2 separate regions of the Homo sapiens genome follow, and region 1 is linked to region 2. Evidence: fine-mapped expression QTL. Tissue or cell type: nasal epithelium. Region 2 holds a variant in brackets; the other region holds the start of a gene. All regions are shown on one strand. Distances are between the middles of the regions.

Region 1 (8,179 bases), 68 kb before region 2:
TTCCACCTCCCAGCAGTGACAACATATTGCTCTTCCCCAAATATCCCCACCTTCTCATGCTCACTCACCCAGTTGTTCGACCCAAATCTTAGAAGTTAATCTTGATTTTTTTTTTCTTTTCCTTCTCCTTCCTTAACTTCTATCTCAAATCCATCAGCAAGACCCATGGGCCCCAAGTTCAAAATATACCTGGAATTCACCTACTTCTCTTCTACTATCTCAGACCAAGCCATCGTTATCTTTTGCTTAGATCATGCAATAGCCTTCAAACTGGTTTCATTTCCAAAACCCACCCCCACTCCACCACCACATCCATTCACCACACAGCAGCCAGCGTGGTCTTTGCAAAACATAGATGGATCACATCACTTCCCTGCTTAAACTCCTTCAGCAGTTCTCAATTACACACAGGAGACAATTCACCTCTTTCAACATGGGCTCCAAGGCCTTGGGTGATCTCCCTCCTGTCTATCTCCCTGACACATCTCCTGCTGTCCTTCCCTTTGGGGATGCAGGCAGAAGATTGGCCAATGTATTCCACATGATGTCTCTAAAGAGCTTACACTCTAATTGGGACACAGGTCTGATTTAGAGACAGCATGTCAATAAACACCCATGCTGCAGCTGTTCAGGTACAAACTCATGTGCTACGGGTAGAAAGAAATGGGGGAGCTGAGGGTGTCTTGTAGAACAGCTAGAGTAGAAGGAACCAAGACTGTTGTGTACCACTGTGTACTCAGCACGTGGCATGATGGCTGGCATATGACAGGGGTCAATAAACACATATTGAGCAAATGAATGACATACACAAAAGATGAAGATGAATGAATGATACGATTCCTGCCCTACTGGAGCCCATAGCCAGGTGGGGGAGGCTAACTAATAAAGAAATGCATGATGGTAAGACATAGGATGGCAGGGTACATTCAACGTACTCTAAAGCGTACATGGGTAGGAACTATCAACTCAGCTTAGAGAAGGGTCACGGAAGACTTCAGACAAGGAAGTGACACTTAGCTGAGACTGAAAGGATAATTAGAGAGGAGTCCAGATGAGATGCAGGAGACAGGCCATGGTGCAGGTAGATGAAGCATGGGGCCCACTGCTGGTGGAGGCCACTAAAGAACCGGACATGACAGTGTGGAACCAAGCATCAAACTATGTGTCACAGAGCACAGGGCTCTATGAAAGGATAAGATAGAGAGCACTGGTTGGCACATAGTAGGTTGTCAGTGTATGTTGGCAGAAGGAATGCCTGCTGGATTACTAAAGGCAATTTAGAACAGATTTGAGTGGGTCTCGAAATGTAAAAACCACAGTCTAAATGGAAGGCAATATGTTAATATAGGTCATAATTAGTATTGAAGAGAAGATAGTCACCAATGATATGGATCGCTCAGGAGGAGCAGAAGCCAGGTGGATAAACAGGTATGTCAGCTGGGTGCAGTAGCTCACGCCTGTAATCTCAGCAATTTGGGAGGCTGAGGCAGGTGGATTGCTTGAGGCCAGGAGTTCGAGACCAGCCTGGCCAACATGCCAAAACCCCACCTCTACTAAAAATACAAAAATTAACCGGGCATGGTGGCGGGCACCTGTAATCCCAGCTACTTAGGAAGCTGAGGCAGGAGAATTGCTTGAACCTGGGAGGGAGAGGTTGCAGTAACCCAAGATTGTACCATTGCACTGCAGCCTGGGCGACAGAGTGAGACTCTGTCTCAAAAAAAAAAAAAAAAAAAAGAAAAAAAAATAGGTATGTTCAACACTCCAGCAGGCCATGCCTTCTGGCCCTGCCATGATGGGTGGGAGGAAGGAGAAGCAAGGGGAAAGACACCTCTTGACTTATTTGGCTGCTATGTGGAGGCTGCCTGGGCTCTGCCTGCCCTGGAGCCTGCTGCCCCTGCCTCCTGGTGGAGGGCTGGTCTTGAGAGGCGCTCCCAGGAATGCTGATCCCCAGGGAAGGTAGCTTTGCTTGTGGTCTGCCAAGGTGAAAGCCTGGGTCTCAAACATCTGACCCTCCTTGCTTCATCTTTGCCCAGATACTGCAAGGACAAAATCACTGGGACTTGGCAGTCTCCAGCAGTCTGAAAGGCTGGGGAATTCAAACGGAGTGAGTGTCTGCCTGGAAAATGTTTGTCCAGGTGGAACTGGTGACTGGGAACAAACACTCTGGGTAGTTTTGAAAGACAAAAAGACAGAGCAGGGCAGGCTTGGGGAATGTGGGAGGCATGGGACATCCCCCTTCTGCGCTCTGGAGAAGGACAAAGGATGTGAATTATCTTTGAGCTTCTCTTTTTTTAAAACCCTAACCCTCCCCATGCCACCCTGCATATTGCCTTCATGTCGCATCCTAGTGGTCATAACCATGGCAGGGGAGGTTGAAAGCATCAATAGCTAATAAAAATAGCTAAGCTTCTACTGAGCTAGCTATTGTTCTAAAGCCTTTACATTAATTGGCTCGTTCAGTCTTCTCAATAACTTAGAGGTAGGTTCTTTTTCCATTCCCATTCTACACATGGAGATCCGAGCTCAGAGAGATGAAGCAACTTGCTCAAGGTCACACAGACAGGAAGTCTCAGACCCAGGATTGGAAGTAGGCCATGTGGCTCCTGAAATCACGTGCTCTTGGGATGACTCTGAGGCAGAGAGTGGAGAAAGACTCCCAAGTCTGAGGAAACCAGTGAAGACTGTGGCCAAGAAGTAGCTGTTGAAGCTGTGTTCACTGACAGGTTCAGATAGCCCCTGATCTGGGTGCCGGGAGGATCCTGGCTCTGTCATGTGGGTAAAATGCACTTGGCAAACACCCTACACTTGCAAAACCTTTTTTTTTTCCTCATTGGTGCGGTGGGAAAATGATCACTAATCCACAGTAACATGAGGAATGAATGAAGGAGCACGTGCAAAGTGCCTGATGCATACGTAGTAGGTGCCAATAAATGTGCTCCTTCTCTCCTTGGTAAAGTTGGCTTCCGGCTAGGCTCAGTCATCCTTTCCACAAATATATGTGGAGAGAACAGGCTAGAGCAACGAGGTTGGGAGTGGGGAAATGACCCAGGGTGATCAGAGGACAAAAATAGATTTTAATTAACCCGTAAGAACCTAGTGCAGGACAAATGAGAGTTAGCTTCAAAGCAATAGCCTTAGGTGGGTGCACTGTTGTTCCAGAGATGCTGATGCTACACCAAACACTGACACCAGCCCTTAGATTCTCCCCCCAGGACAGGCCTGGTGTGATTCCCATGTTGGGGGTGCTAGGGCAGGAGGCGGCCTTTTAAGGAAACTGAGTCTCAGGGACAGGAACCACCTGGCAAAATCACACAGCTACTCAGGGCAAGAGCAGAAGCTGGGGCTTTGATTTCTCCGCTGGAAGTCTCTCCCACACCGGCGGGCCTCTCATCCTTCCTTAGCCTCACATGCTACATTGGAGATAGACTATTCTGCTCTCATCTGAGGCCATGGTTTATTCAAGACTGGCTCAGAATGGCTTTGGACTATTTGGACTATTTTCTAAAATAACTAAACCCATCTCAGGAGGAGGAAGCTGGGGATGTCCAAGGGAATGTGCCCATGCATCTGCCTGGCAGTGGCCGGGCTTGGAGTAGAAGCTGAGTGCACCATGATCACTGCCAAGTGCCGGCATCAAGCATTTGGTTTCTACACCAGCTTCACGCAGAGGACAAGGGCCAGCCATTTTCTGGTGGAAGAAAAGGTCTGAGGCGAATATTCCTTTTTTTTTTTTTTTTTTTTGAGATGGACTTTTGCTTTTGTTGCCCAGGCTGGAGTGCAATGGCACGATCCCGCCTCACCGCAACCTCTGCCTCTCTGGTTCAAGCGACTCTCCTGCCTCAGCCTTCCGCGTAGCTGGGATTACGGGCATGCACCACCATGCCCAGTTAATTTTGTGTTTTTAGTACAGACGGGGTTTCATCATGTTGGTCAGGCTGGTCTCAAACTCCCAACCTCAGGTGATCTGCCCGCTTCGGCCTCCCAAAGTGTTGGGATCACAGGCGTGAGCCACTGCGCCCGGCCGCAAATATTCTTGTATTGGGAGCCTTGGGCTTTTTAGAGTCACCTCAGAGGTTAGTGGGGTGCTCTACGGGAGCCTGTTTAAGAGTCTGGAGTCCTTAGTCTAGGTTTGCGAAAGATCTTCCAGAAGCGAGATCTATTCAATTCTGAAGAAATAACTCAGGAGGTCTTTCAGAAACTCCTTCCCGCTGGACCTCACGGGACTCTCCTGGACTCGGTGGGTTGAGGTTTGATCCTCTTTGCAGGCCAGGGGATGGATTAGGTGACCCCAGAGGAGCCCTGCTGACACCTGGATTCCAGCTGCTTTCGTGGCCATGTGGGGGTGGCTGTGCGTGCCCCGCCACTGCGTGCGTGGGTGTCTGTGTGTGTTATCGGTGGGGGGCGCGTGAGTGTGGCCGCGGGTGGGTGTGTCCGATGTGCCCCGGCTTGGGACCGCGCCCGCTGCGCCCACTTGTGGCTCCTGGGAGCCGCCAGGGGGAACCGCGCCTTCACCGCCTCTGCCGAGGACGCCGCCAGATAGGAGGCTGATGACATGAGGGCTCCGTCTCCCGAGTGATGGCAGCGCGCGCTGCTTCGCCGCCTCCGCCGCTCAGCCCCGGACTCCTTACGTCAGGGTAGCGGGGTCCCCCCTCCGCGCGGGAGCCAGCGAACAGCGAGAGAGCACAGCAGAGCGCGCCGCGGAGCCGGGGCGCCCTCACTGCGCTAGGAGCCCCACTAAACCCAGCGGAGCGGAGCCTGGCGGGAGGCAGCGCCGCGGAGCCAGCGCCGGACGCCGCAAGCAGACTCCCCGGCCAGCGCAAGCACTCCCTGGCCGGCGCCGGACCCTCGGGGCGCCGGATTCGTCTTGTGTGCCCCACGTCATGCGCGCGGGCGTCCGCGGCTCTCCCGACCAGCCCCAGCGCGGTGGGCCCAGGCTCAGAGGTCCCGGCGCCTCTCGCTGAAGTAGTTGGGTAGCCGGGGCTGGGGGTCGCCACGTCGGGGGCGCGGCCAGGACCCGCGGAGCCGGTCCCCGAGCGCGGGGAGCGGGGCCGCCCGCGCCGCCCCACCATTACCTCCCCGGGCGGCAAGGAGGAGCTGGTGGCGGTCGCCTCCCGGCTGTGGCAGCGGCGGCGGCGTGCCTGCCTGGCGGCCGTCGGCGTACTCTTGGCCATGGCGCTCGGGCTGCTCATCGCCGTGCCGCTGCTGCTGCAGGCGGCGCCCCGAGGCGCCGCGCACTATGAGATGATGGGCACCTGCCGCATGATCTGCGACCCTTACACTGCCGCGCCCGGCGGGGAGCCCCCGGGTGCAAAGGCGCAGCCACCCGGACCCAGCACCGCCGCCCTGGAAGTCATGCAGGACCTCAGCGCCAACCCTCCTCCTCCTTTCATCCAGGGACCCAAGGGCGACCCGGGGCGACCGGGCAAGCCAGGGCCGCGGGGGCCCCCTGGAGAGCCGGGCCCGCCTGGACCCAGGGGCCCTCCGGGAGAGAAGGGCGACTCGGGGCGGCCCGGGCTGCCAGGGCTGCAACTGACGGCGGGCACGGCCAGCGGCGTCGGGGTGGTGGGCGGCGGGGCCGGGGTAGGTGGCGATTCCGAGGGTGAAGTGACCAGTGCGCTGAGCGCCACCTTCAGCGGCCCCAAGATCGCCTTCTATGTGGGTCTCAAGAGCCCCCACGAAGGCTATGAGGTGCTGAAGTTCGATGACGTGGTCACCAACCTCGGCAATCACTATGACCCCACCACGGGCAAGTTCAGCTGCCAGGTACGCGGCATCTACTTCTTCACCTACCACATCCTCATGCGCGGCGGCGACGGCACCAGCATGTGGGCGGACCTCTGCAAGAACGGGCAGGTCAGTGACCCCTACACTCACCGGCCCCCGTAAACCCTCGCCCGCGCCCTGAACCTCCCAGGGAACCAGCCTCCTTTCTCTCCACCCGCGGGCTACCCTGCGAGCCCCGGGAATGAACGCGCCTCGGTGCCACAGTATCTCCGCTTCCCGATGCGCCGAGGCCGCGCTCACCGGGACGTAGAGCCAAATGTTGGGCCTTGAGAGCCCAGAGACCCCCATACCTAAACTACACTCCTTGGCCACTTGCGTCCCTGCCTGCCTCTCCGTGGGCTTCTCGGAAACCTCAGTTCTTTAGTTCTCTCCAGGTCGCCCCCTTGCCCTGCAGCCTCCTTTCCTCTTGGCCCTGGCCCCTGGCTCCCACCCTTCCACTCTGGGTCAGTGTTCATGAAGCTTCCCCTCTCCCTATTTCCCAGACTCGTCGGCGCGAGGAGGAGGGGGGACCTGGAAGGAGTTGACTAAGTTGGAGAGAGAACATGGAGCTGGGGTGGGAGTGTGGACCCTGAAGCAGCAGGCGGGAGGCCCGTGAGTGGCGCGCCTGGTGTGGGCTGAGCAAAGGCGCGGGAAGAGGTGCCCCGGCTCACCTGCTCCCACCGCTTGTCCCCAGGTCCGGGCCAGCGCCATTGCACAGGACGCCGACCAGAACTACGACTACGCCAGTAACAGCGTGGTGCTGCACTTGGATTCAGGGGACGAAGTGTATGTGAAGCTGGATGGCGGGAAGGCTCACGGAGGCAATAATAACAAGTACAGCACGTTCTCGGGCTTTCTTCTGTACCCGGATTAGGGGCGCGGGGGGTGCGAGGCGGGGTGGCTGCAGGCCGCCCGGTCTCCGCCCGGGCGCGGCTCCTTGGCAAAGGCCACTCTCGATTCATAACACTTCCTGACATCTCCTTTGGAAAAGACAAATCCCTGCGTCCTCCCTGCCCCGCTCCTGGCCTCAGTGCGTCTGCGACCCACCACGCTCAGGGCTGTGCTCCTGGTCTCCATCCCCATCCCGGCAAGGGAGGAAGGGACGCCCGAGCCCTTGAGGCGGCGGCACAGACTTTGCAAACCTGATTAGACTGGACAGGCAGGGCCGGGAGCCTGCCCTCCTCAGACAGCCTCCTCCCAGTGCCTAGAAGCGGAGGGCTCCGGGCCCTGGCCAGGGAGGTAGGCCAGAGGGAGCGCGGGCTTCCTGGGGCGTCCTTCTTTGTGACCCGAAATACTTGTGCAGATTTCCCTGTCCATCAGCCAAAACCCCACCCACAGCAGAATTCCAGCAAACAGAAAATTCACCTCTCCACACCGCATTCCCTCCTGACTCAGACTCACCGCGATGCATTAAATTATGTTTTTAGACTATGCGTTCTGTTGTCTGTATGTCGACACATCCTGGACCAGGGCTCCAGATGTCCGCCTTGGCATAAAGACCTTACCTGGGCCCAGGATAGGCCCATCTATGACCTGCTCCCCAGCCGCTGCTATGTCCCTGCCACCAGAAGTTGCCGAAAAGACATGGGGTAAATGGGAGCTGCATCCCACCCTTCCCAGAAGCTCTCCCCAGGCTGCAGCCCTGAGCTGGAGAGGCCGGAGGTGGGGTTGGGAGGAGGGGAGGAGGCGGGGAAAGGCATCAGGGAGAGTTAGAGGAAAGCAGGAGAGGAATGATTGGGTCTCCAGTCTTGGGCAACTTGGGCAACTTAGTCCTCCCGGAGTTGTGGGTGGAGGTCAGAGGGGAGGGGCTTCTGGGGAAGGAAGGGGAAGAGAAGGCATCTATGGGAAATGGGAGGCGTGAGTGACACTTGCCGGGGAGGGATCTGTAGGATGTTTGGCTCCTAAAAGGAAGTGCAGAAGTCCCTAGCAGACACACACCCGCTCGAGCGGATGGTTCACTAAGCACAGGCCTGTTTACTCACAGCCGCCAGGGCCACCGCTCTCCGGAGAGCTGGTAAACTGAGGCAATTCCGCGGATCATCCAGCTTGCTGAACTTCCTCAGGGCTGTGTGTTGAGGTGGACACCATTCCTTGGGGAGGGACGCCTCTTTCCTGCGGGCTTCCCTTCCCTTATGCATGCGATTTGGGGTGCCTGCTCTGAACCTGAGTGTGTGTGTTTGGTGTCCCATCAGCATTCTACACACACACAAGTTAGGAAAACACCCCGCATGGTTTTGATTTTTTTCTTTTTACTTTTTTTTTGTTGTCAGATCACTGAGTTACAACAAAGTTATGTACAAAATAACCAGTCAGCTCCCAGCAACCTGTTAGTGCTTACTGAGGTCACTTTTACGGGTTGTGTGAAAAGAAATGTGTGAGTATACACAAAAAGGCAACCCCAGGGTGTGTGTAT
Region 2 (8,179 bases):
TGATCGCAGCTCACTACATTCTTGACCTTCCAGGCTCAATCGATCCTCCCACCTCAACATCCTGAGTAGCTGAGACTAAAGGCACATGCTACCATGTATTGCTATTTCTTTCTTTCTTTTCTTTTTATTTTTGGTAGAGATAAATTTTGCCATGTTGCCCAGGCTGGTCTCAAACTCTCAGGCTCAAATGATCCACTCGCCTTGGCCTCCCAAAGTGTTGGTATTACCGGTGTGAGCCACTGATCCAGGATAGTGGGTTTTTTTTTGTTTTTTTTCAAATCATGAAATGATATTGAATTTTGTCAAATGCTTTTTCTACAGCAATTAAAATAATCATGTGTTTTCTTTTTCTTCATTCTGTTCATGTAATGTATTGCATTGATTGATTTTTATGTATCGAATCATCCTTGCATTCCAGGAATAAATTCCACTGGTCATGGTATATAATCCTTTCAATACACTGCTGCTGAATTTGTTTTCCTAGAATTTTGCTGAGATTTTTGCATCAGTGTTAACTAGGGATATTGGTGTGTAGCTTTCTTGTAGTGTCTTTGGGTGTGGGTTTTTATATTGAAGAAAAATATTCTTCAAAAATAAAAATGAAATAAATAAAAGCCAAGATAGTTCATTACCAAAAAACATTCTTTAAGTGAAATATTAAATTTAGGTTAAAGGAAAATAGTATCAAATAAAAACTAAGGTCTATGGAAAGTAACCAAACATTGGAAATGGCAAATGTGAGTGAATATAAATGCTTATTGTTTCATTTTAAAAAATTTATTTAAGCAATTTCAAAGCAAAAATAATAACATTGTATTGTGGGATTAACATTGTATTGTGGGATTTACATGACAATAGTGGAACAAAGGATAGGGAGTGTATTATATATCTTTAAGATTTATACATTTTGCCTGAAGTGGTGCTCAGTAGACTGTGATGACTTAAAGATGTACATTGTAATCTACAGAAACTACTAAAAAAATGTAGAGAGGAATAGCTAAAGAGCTAGCATGAAAAATAAAATACAATTCTAAAAAATATTTGACTAACATAAAAGAAGGCAGAAAAATAGTAGAGAAACCAAAAATAAAGCTAAAGCAAAGAAAACAAATAGGGAGATGGTAGACTTAAACCCAACTGTATCAGCAATGGCATTACATATAAATAGTTTTACCTGCAAGAAAAAGGCAGAGATTTTTAGACCAGAAAAAATAAATAAAACCAACTATATTACATCTACAAAAACTTCTACATTTTCTTTTTTTAAATAAGAAAATATTTTTTGTAGAGAAGGGGTCTCACTATATTGCCCAGGCTGGTCTCGAACTCTATGTCTCAAATGATTCTCCCTTCTCAGCCTCCCAAAATGTTGGGATTACAGGCATAAGCCACTGGGCCCAGCATACCCTTTTATATTTAAAAACGCATCTTTAAGTATAAAGACACAGATGTGTTGAAAGCAAAACAATGCAAAAATATCTAACACAAATGGTAAACATAATAAAGCTGGTGTGTGGCTATTTTAATATCAAAATAAATTACAGGATAAGAACTGTTAAGGAATGTTAGACAGAGATAAAGAGTTTTCAAAAAATTTTTTAAAAGGCTAATTCAGCAGTCAATTACTGTGTTTGCATCTAATAAGAGAGCTTCAACATATATAAAGCACAAACTGATGGAAATAAAAGGAGAAATATTTAAAGCAACAATCATATTAGAAAATTTTAACAGCCTCCTTAGTGATTGATAGAACAATTAGACAAAAGAAATCAGCCATGATATAGAAGACTTGAACAACGCTAGCTACCAACTTGCCCTAATTGACATTTATAGAGCACTTCCTCCAACAACGGCAGAGCACACATTCTTCTCATGTGTATAGAGAACATTGACCAAGGTAGACCTTAATACTGACTGTGAAGTAAGTATTATAAAATTTTACAAAAATATTTTTCCTATTGCAAATAAATTCCAAAAAATTGGCACAAGATGGAACAGTATTTCTGAATAGCCCTATATCTATGAAATAAATTGAATTTGTCTTCAAAGGCCTTCCCCAGAAGAAAACTCCAGGCCTAGTTAAATTCATAGGCCAGTTCAATCAAACACCAGGCCTAGTTAAATTCATAGGCCAGTTCAATCAAACACCTAAGAAACAGTACCAATCTTACACAAACTTTTTCAGAAAATAGAGGAATAGTCTTCCCTGCTTAATTCATTGTATGAGGTCAGCATTACCCTGTATTAGCAAAACCAGACAAAGATATTAGAAGAAATCAGCATTACACATGAACTTATATGCAAAAATCCTCAAGAAAATTTTAGCAAGTTGAATTTACCAATATGCAAAAAGTTAGTAATACCATGAGCAAGTAGAATGGAAACACAAGAATACAAAAATCATTTAGCATTCAAAAATCCATCACGATAATTATACTAACAGGATAAAGAGAAAAAAAAGAACTATTTCCATAGATGTAAACAAATATTTGATGAAATTCAACATCCATTCAGGTTAAAACTTTTCAATAAACTAGGAATAGAATGGAACTTCCTCATCTGATGAGGAGTTTCTCAAAAATCCTGCAGCTAATACCATTCTCAATGGAGACAAACTGTATATATTCACACCAAAACTGGGAACAAGTAAAGTATGCCCACTCTGATCATATATATTCAGTATTTTACTGAAGGTCATAGCCAGTGCAATAAGGCAAGAAATTGAATTAAAAAGTAGAGTGATTGAAAAGGAAGAAGTAAATCTGCCTTTATTAGTAGACAACATGATTGTCTACGCAGAAAATCATGAGTTTACCAAAAAAACCCTATGAGAACTAATAAGCAATTTTAATACACTTTTCAAGATATAAAGTCAATATACATAAAAAGTTTTTTTGTCTATTGACTATGTCTAGGAAAAATTTGAAATTGAACTTTGAAAAAGTACCATTTAAAATAGCATAAAATATTAGGAATAAATTTAACAAAATACACGTGAGCCTGCATACTAAATACTATAAAATATCATGAAAAATTAAAGAAGATCTAAAGTAAATAAAAAGGCTAGGCGCAGTGGCTTATGCCTGTAATCCCAGCACTTTGGGAGGCCAAGGCAGGAGGATCACTTCAGGTCAGGAGTTCGAGGCCAGCCTGGCCAACATGGTGAAACCCCGTTTCTACTAAAAATACAAAAATTAGCTGGGCATGATGGTGTCCACCTGTAATCCCAGCTACTCTGGAGGCTGAGGCAGGAGAATTGCTTGAACCTGGGAAGCAGAGGTTGCAGTGAGCCGAGATCATGCCACTGTGCTCCCGCCTGTGTGACAGAGTGAGACTTCGTCTCAAAAAAAATTTAATAAATACAATTTAAAAATAAAGTAAATAAAAAGATATTCTGGTATTCATGGATCAGAAGAATCAACGTTATTAAGATGTCAGTTCTCCTCAAACTGATGTATAAATTCAAAGCTATCCAATCAAATTGTCAGAAAATTTTCTTGTAGAAGTTGACAGATTGATTCAAAAATTTAAAAGGAAATGTAAAGAACCAACTATAGTGAAAATAATCTTGAAAAAAAAACTGGAAGGCTTATATTAATTGATCTCAAGACTTACTGTAAAACTATATTATTGAGACAATATACTCTTGGCATTGGGCTATACTAAGACCAGGAAAATCAATGAAAGAAAAGAGAATCAGACCCATGTATATATGACCAGTTGATTTTCTAGAAAGGCACTGACGCAAATCAGTGGGTGGAAAAGAAAGTCTTTTGGGCAAAAAGTGCTAGGGTTGAGGGACAAATATAAAATATAGAAAAAAATCCCTGACCCTCTCTACTTCACACATAACACAAAAAGTAAGTTGAGGTGGATCACAGACCAAAACAAAAGCTAAGTAAAAAGTTTCTAAGCAAAAAAAACATTTTTGAAAAATTTTTGACACCTGGAGGTAGGCAGAGATTTCTTAGAGAGGACACAAGAAGCTCTATCCATAGAAGAAAAAGTTGATACATTAGATTTCATCAAAATTAATAATTTCTGCTGAGCAAAAGACACTATTAAGAAGATGTAGAACACATTACAGGCTGGGAGAACAATCTATATACCTGACACATGTCTTGAATCTAGAATATGGAAATAATTCTTATACATCAACAGTAAAAACACAAACACTCCAATAAAAATGAAAAATATTTTGATAGCCACTTCACTAAAGCATAGGACTTAAAGGGATTATTCCCCTCCCCTCCCCTCTCCTCTCCTTTCCTTTCCTTTCTCCTAAGCCTATGCTCTTAAATAATTCATTTGAATTTTGAGACTCTGAGGACCTTTGAGCAAAATCTGCTACCCATCATTCCACCCACCTCTCACCCACTCACCCATCCACCTACCCCTTCATCCATATCCAATCAACTTTCAGCAAGGCCCCTGAGCAGCTCACAGTCTGAAACAGCGGCAGAGGGATCAGCAAGTAGACTCCCGTGTGATGCCTGCTAGGACAAAGGAAGGCCCGGGGGGCTGTGAAGGCACAGAGGAGAAGCCCCACCTAGTTAGTTATTGCTGGGAGGCTTTCAGAACAGGACGGAAGGGCACTGCACTTGAGATGATCTCCTTCTGCCACAACGTTCCTTGGGTCTCCGTCGCTTCTGGACTGGGCACAGCGATGTCTCCAGAGGAGAGAACGGTTATATACTTTCT[G/A]GTTGGGAAAGGGTGAGGAGGTGGACCAGGAAGGACAAACCTCAGCTGCTGCCCTTTCCTTTTGTCTTCCTTCCCTCATTCACTCATCCTGGACCGGCCACTGTGCCTCCACAAGAGGATACTGCCGTTCCACTGAGCTTTGAGGGGAAGAACCTAGAAAAACAATCCCTCAGGAACAATCCATTGGTCTGGCCACGTCTCCTGCCTGCTCAGTTTTCAGCCAGCCTGTGTGGGATGTACAGAGAGAAAGCTGGGTCAGGGCCAAACCTCAGAGACCCTCTGTCCCAGCACAGGAACTGCACCTGTGTTCCTGAAGCAATTCAGGAGGAGCAGTGTCAGAGGAGAATTGATGAAAACTAACAGGGAAGAAGGGAGGTGAAGGAAGGCAGATGTAGTCTGAAGGGGCTTCCTGAAGGAATGGGGCTTGAAAACAAGATTTGGGAAGCATATAGATATGATGAGGATCCTGGAGGGCATTATGTTAACAGTAACAAATGATTACTAGTTTGAGAAGCACTTATGATTTTTCCCTATTGGCCAAGGTCAGTGTTTACATGGATGATCGCATTATCATTTTAGGGGGGGAGAAGAATCAATCTAAACAAAGGCATTTTCTCTCTGGAGCTGCCCTGGGTAGTCCCCACATGGCCCCCCACCTCATGCATGTAGGCATGCAGACATGCATGTGTGCACACGAAATGCAGCTTGAGATTCCCTGGGATAGAGCTCAGGAGCCAAGTTTCATGCAGTCCCTTAGTTCTCATCTTGTTCATCGATATAAATTAGTGAGCACATTGGTCTGTCAGGCAGCATCCATTTATTTGAATTTACTCAGGGAAGAGCACAGCATGGTGGGGAGTGCCTGCCTGCCACCCCTCTGCCTAGCCTACAGAGAGCTGTGCATGTATGCCCCTTGAACTCCCCATCAATCAAATGACGGCTTTTACATGGTGTCTGCTGGGGCCTGGCACTGTGCTCCCAAAAGAGCCGGAAGGTCTGATCCACGGCTCATAACCTTATTGGGAAGGTGATGGCCATAAAGATGGACCAACTGAACAGGAGACACAGATCAGAAGAGCATGCTGATGTGATACAAGACTAAATGTATGGCGTGGGCCTTGTGTTCCCCAGACTGTGTGCTGAGAGTCTAGGTTTCTGTATAGGAGACGCAGGGCCACTGTGGGAGATGTGGTGGGACGGCACAACAGGGGGTGCTCTGACCTCTTTTCTGCTTTAACCAGCTCCACTGACACCTGTTTCAGGGATAATACACTTCCGGTAAGATTTCATTCATGTTCTATTTCCCATCAAGAATGCTGCTGCTTGGGAGGCCAAGGTGGGCAGATCACAAATTCAGGAGATCGAGACCATCCTGGCTAAAACGGTGAAACCCCGTCTCTACTAAAAATACAAAAAAATTAGCCGGGCGTGGTGGCGGGTGCCTGTAGTACCAGCTACCTGGGAGGCTGAGGCAGGAGAATGGCGTGAACCTGGGAGGCAGAGCTTGCAGTGAGCCGAGATCCTGCCACTGCACTCCAGCCTAGGCGACAGAGTGAGACTCCATCTCAAAAACAAAACAAAAAAAAAAAAGAAAAAAAAATGCCGCTGCACTCTCAACCCCCTAATAAAAGTCTTAGTTTTCTACAGATGGGGCTTTCCATTGTGACAGTCCTTGAGAGGCAGTGGGGAAAATTGAGGCTTTGGGGAAAGTTTGCAGAAGGTGACCAAGGAAACAGGGCCTGGACCAAGGGCCAGCCTTGATCGAGACAGGAATCGCCCTGCTCTGGGATGTGAGGGTCCCTCAGTCAGAGATCTCCTCTTGCCTAGATAGAGCCCCGTTCCCTGCTACCCCCAGGAGGGCAGTCGGAAGCACCTGCTGCCTTCCTTACTCCTTGTCACTTGTCAACTTCAGAGCAATCAGTCTGCTACTTAACACTTAACAGGCAAAGCACTCCAGCACTGCATCCGATTTGTCTTTGTTAGTGCTAACAGCAGAAGGGTGTGCAGGTCTCATTGTGTCGGCCTCCCTGCGGATGCTGCACCTGGGGCTCACTGTGCAATCATCTAGGCCTGCTACAGTCACCCAGTGAGGCACTCGGCAGAGTCTCACCCAGCACAGTGAGTCTGCTTCGCAGAGCCTGCCGGAAATGGCCACTGTGGGAGGGAGCATTTGTCAGGGGGGCCCTGCAACTGAACTGAGGAGGAGACCCCAGGCAGAAACCCACCTTGTAGTCTGTCTCCCCTGTGAATTCTCATGGGCACATGCATAGTGTACTGAGTTCATTTCATCAACACTGGACAAGCTAAGTGCTCAGGATACAGTGGGGATAGTAGATCACAACCCTACCCTCAAAAGGCTCACAGTCTAGGAGACAGGGGGCTGACAGGTCTACAGGTAGTAGCCAGCAATATTGTAAATGCTAGCATGGAGGTGGGTTCACAGTCTGTTGCAGAGGAGATCTCATCCAACCCAGCCAGGTGAGGTCAGGAAAGGCCTCTGGGACTCAGATGTGTGGAGTAGCACAGTTGCCAAAGGGCAGGAGGGGAGCACCGAGCTGGAGAAGTGGCCAAAGGGATGTGGAAGAGAGTGAGCTGGAAGATCACGGGTGGGTCGGCCTTGCTGGAATATTTTTGAACTATTGTGTTTCTATCATTTAGCTGCCATTTATCCACACTATCCACTTCTATTGTTCTCTCTTCATAGATCTTCCTATACTTTCTTTGCCATCTATCCAACTACCTACCTGTGATTTATCTACCATCCATCCATCCATCCATGCATCCATCCATCCATCCATCCATCCATGCATCCATCCATCTGTCCCTCTGTCCCTCCATCCACCCATGCATCCATCTCTAGAAGTCTTCAGGTCGTGCCCCAAAACAGATCTGTCTCCAAAGAACTCTCTCAGCTCAGTGCCTGAATTTTACAATTAGAGATGTATTCTTGCTGTAAATGCTAATAATCTCTCAGCATTTCTAACAAGCACACAGCCCAGCGAGCGGCAAAAGAAGTCAGCAATGCGCAGCCTGTGCAGTTCTTATCAAATCACATGTCTTTGGTAGGTGGCCCCTGGGACGCAAGGATAAGCATGGAAAGGTCTGAGAGAAGCAGTGGGACCAATTCCAGAGGGCCAGGCCCACTTCTGAGGATTTGCTGTTGATGTATCCATGTCCTTGGGGCCAGCCTTCCCTGACTGTAAACCCCAGGGAGGCTGGTGTGGGGTGTCTCCATCTCGTTCATCTGTCACAGTGATGGTACATGTTATGGGCCCACTAAATTCTTTTAAATGAATGAATGCCCTTGGAACTTTTGGACAAGGGAAAAGTCATTGGAGGGGTTTGCACTAACTCCCTGTAGAAGCATCTGGAAATGGGGCAAACAGAGCTGGCCCCTCACCCTTAATGCAAGAGTAGCTCATGCAAATTGTGGAGTCACGGGTGAGGCCAGTCCTGTGTGCCAGAGGTCATCCAAACC

The links. PIP is the estimated chance that this variant, and not a neighbour inherited with it, causes the effect. A credible set is the group of variants that fine-mapping cannot tell apart.
Region 1: it holds the start of C1QL2, and the variant in region 2 is the best candidate, but not a certain one, in a credible set for the expression of C1QL2 in nasal epithelium (TOPMed, PIP 0.62).

Annotation. Positions count from the first base shown.
Region 1 is chr2:119,155,263-119,163,441 of GRCh38, reverse strand. It overlaps C1QL2 (complement C1q like 2), which reads left to right and starts at 4,691. Exons shown (of 2, transcript NM_182528.4): 1 at 4,691-5,856; 2 at 6,461-7,199. The coding sequence starts at 5,173. The coding sequence ends at 6,640. RefSeq lists an enhancer at 5,513-6,323.
Region 2 is chr2:119,087,501-119,095,679 of GRCh38, reverse strand. No RefSeq gene overlaps it. Among named protein-coding and RNA genes, the nearest start is that of C1QL2, 67 kb to the left of the region's middle. The variant G/A (reference allele first, on the strand shown) is at 4,702.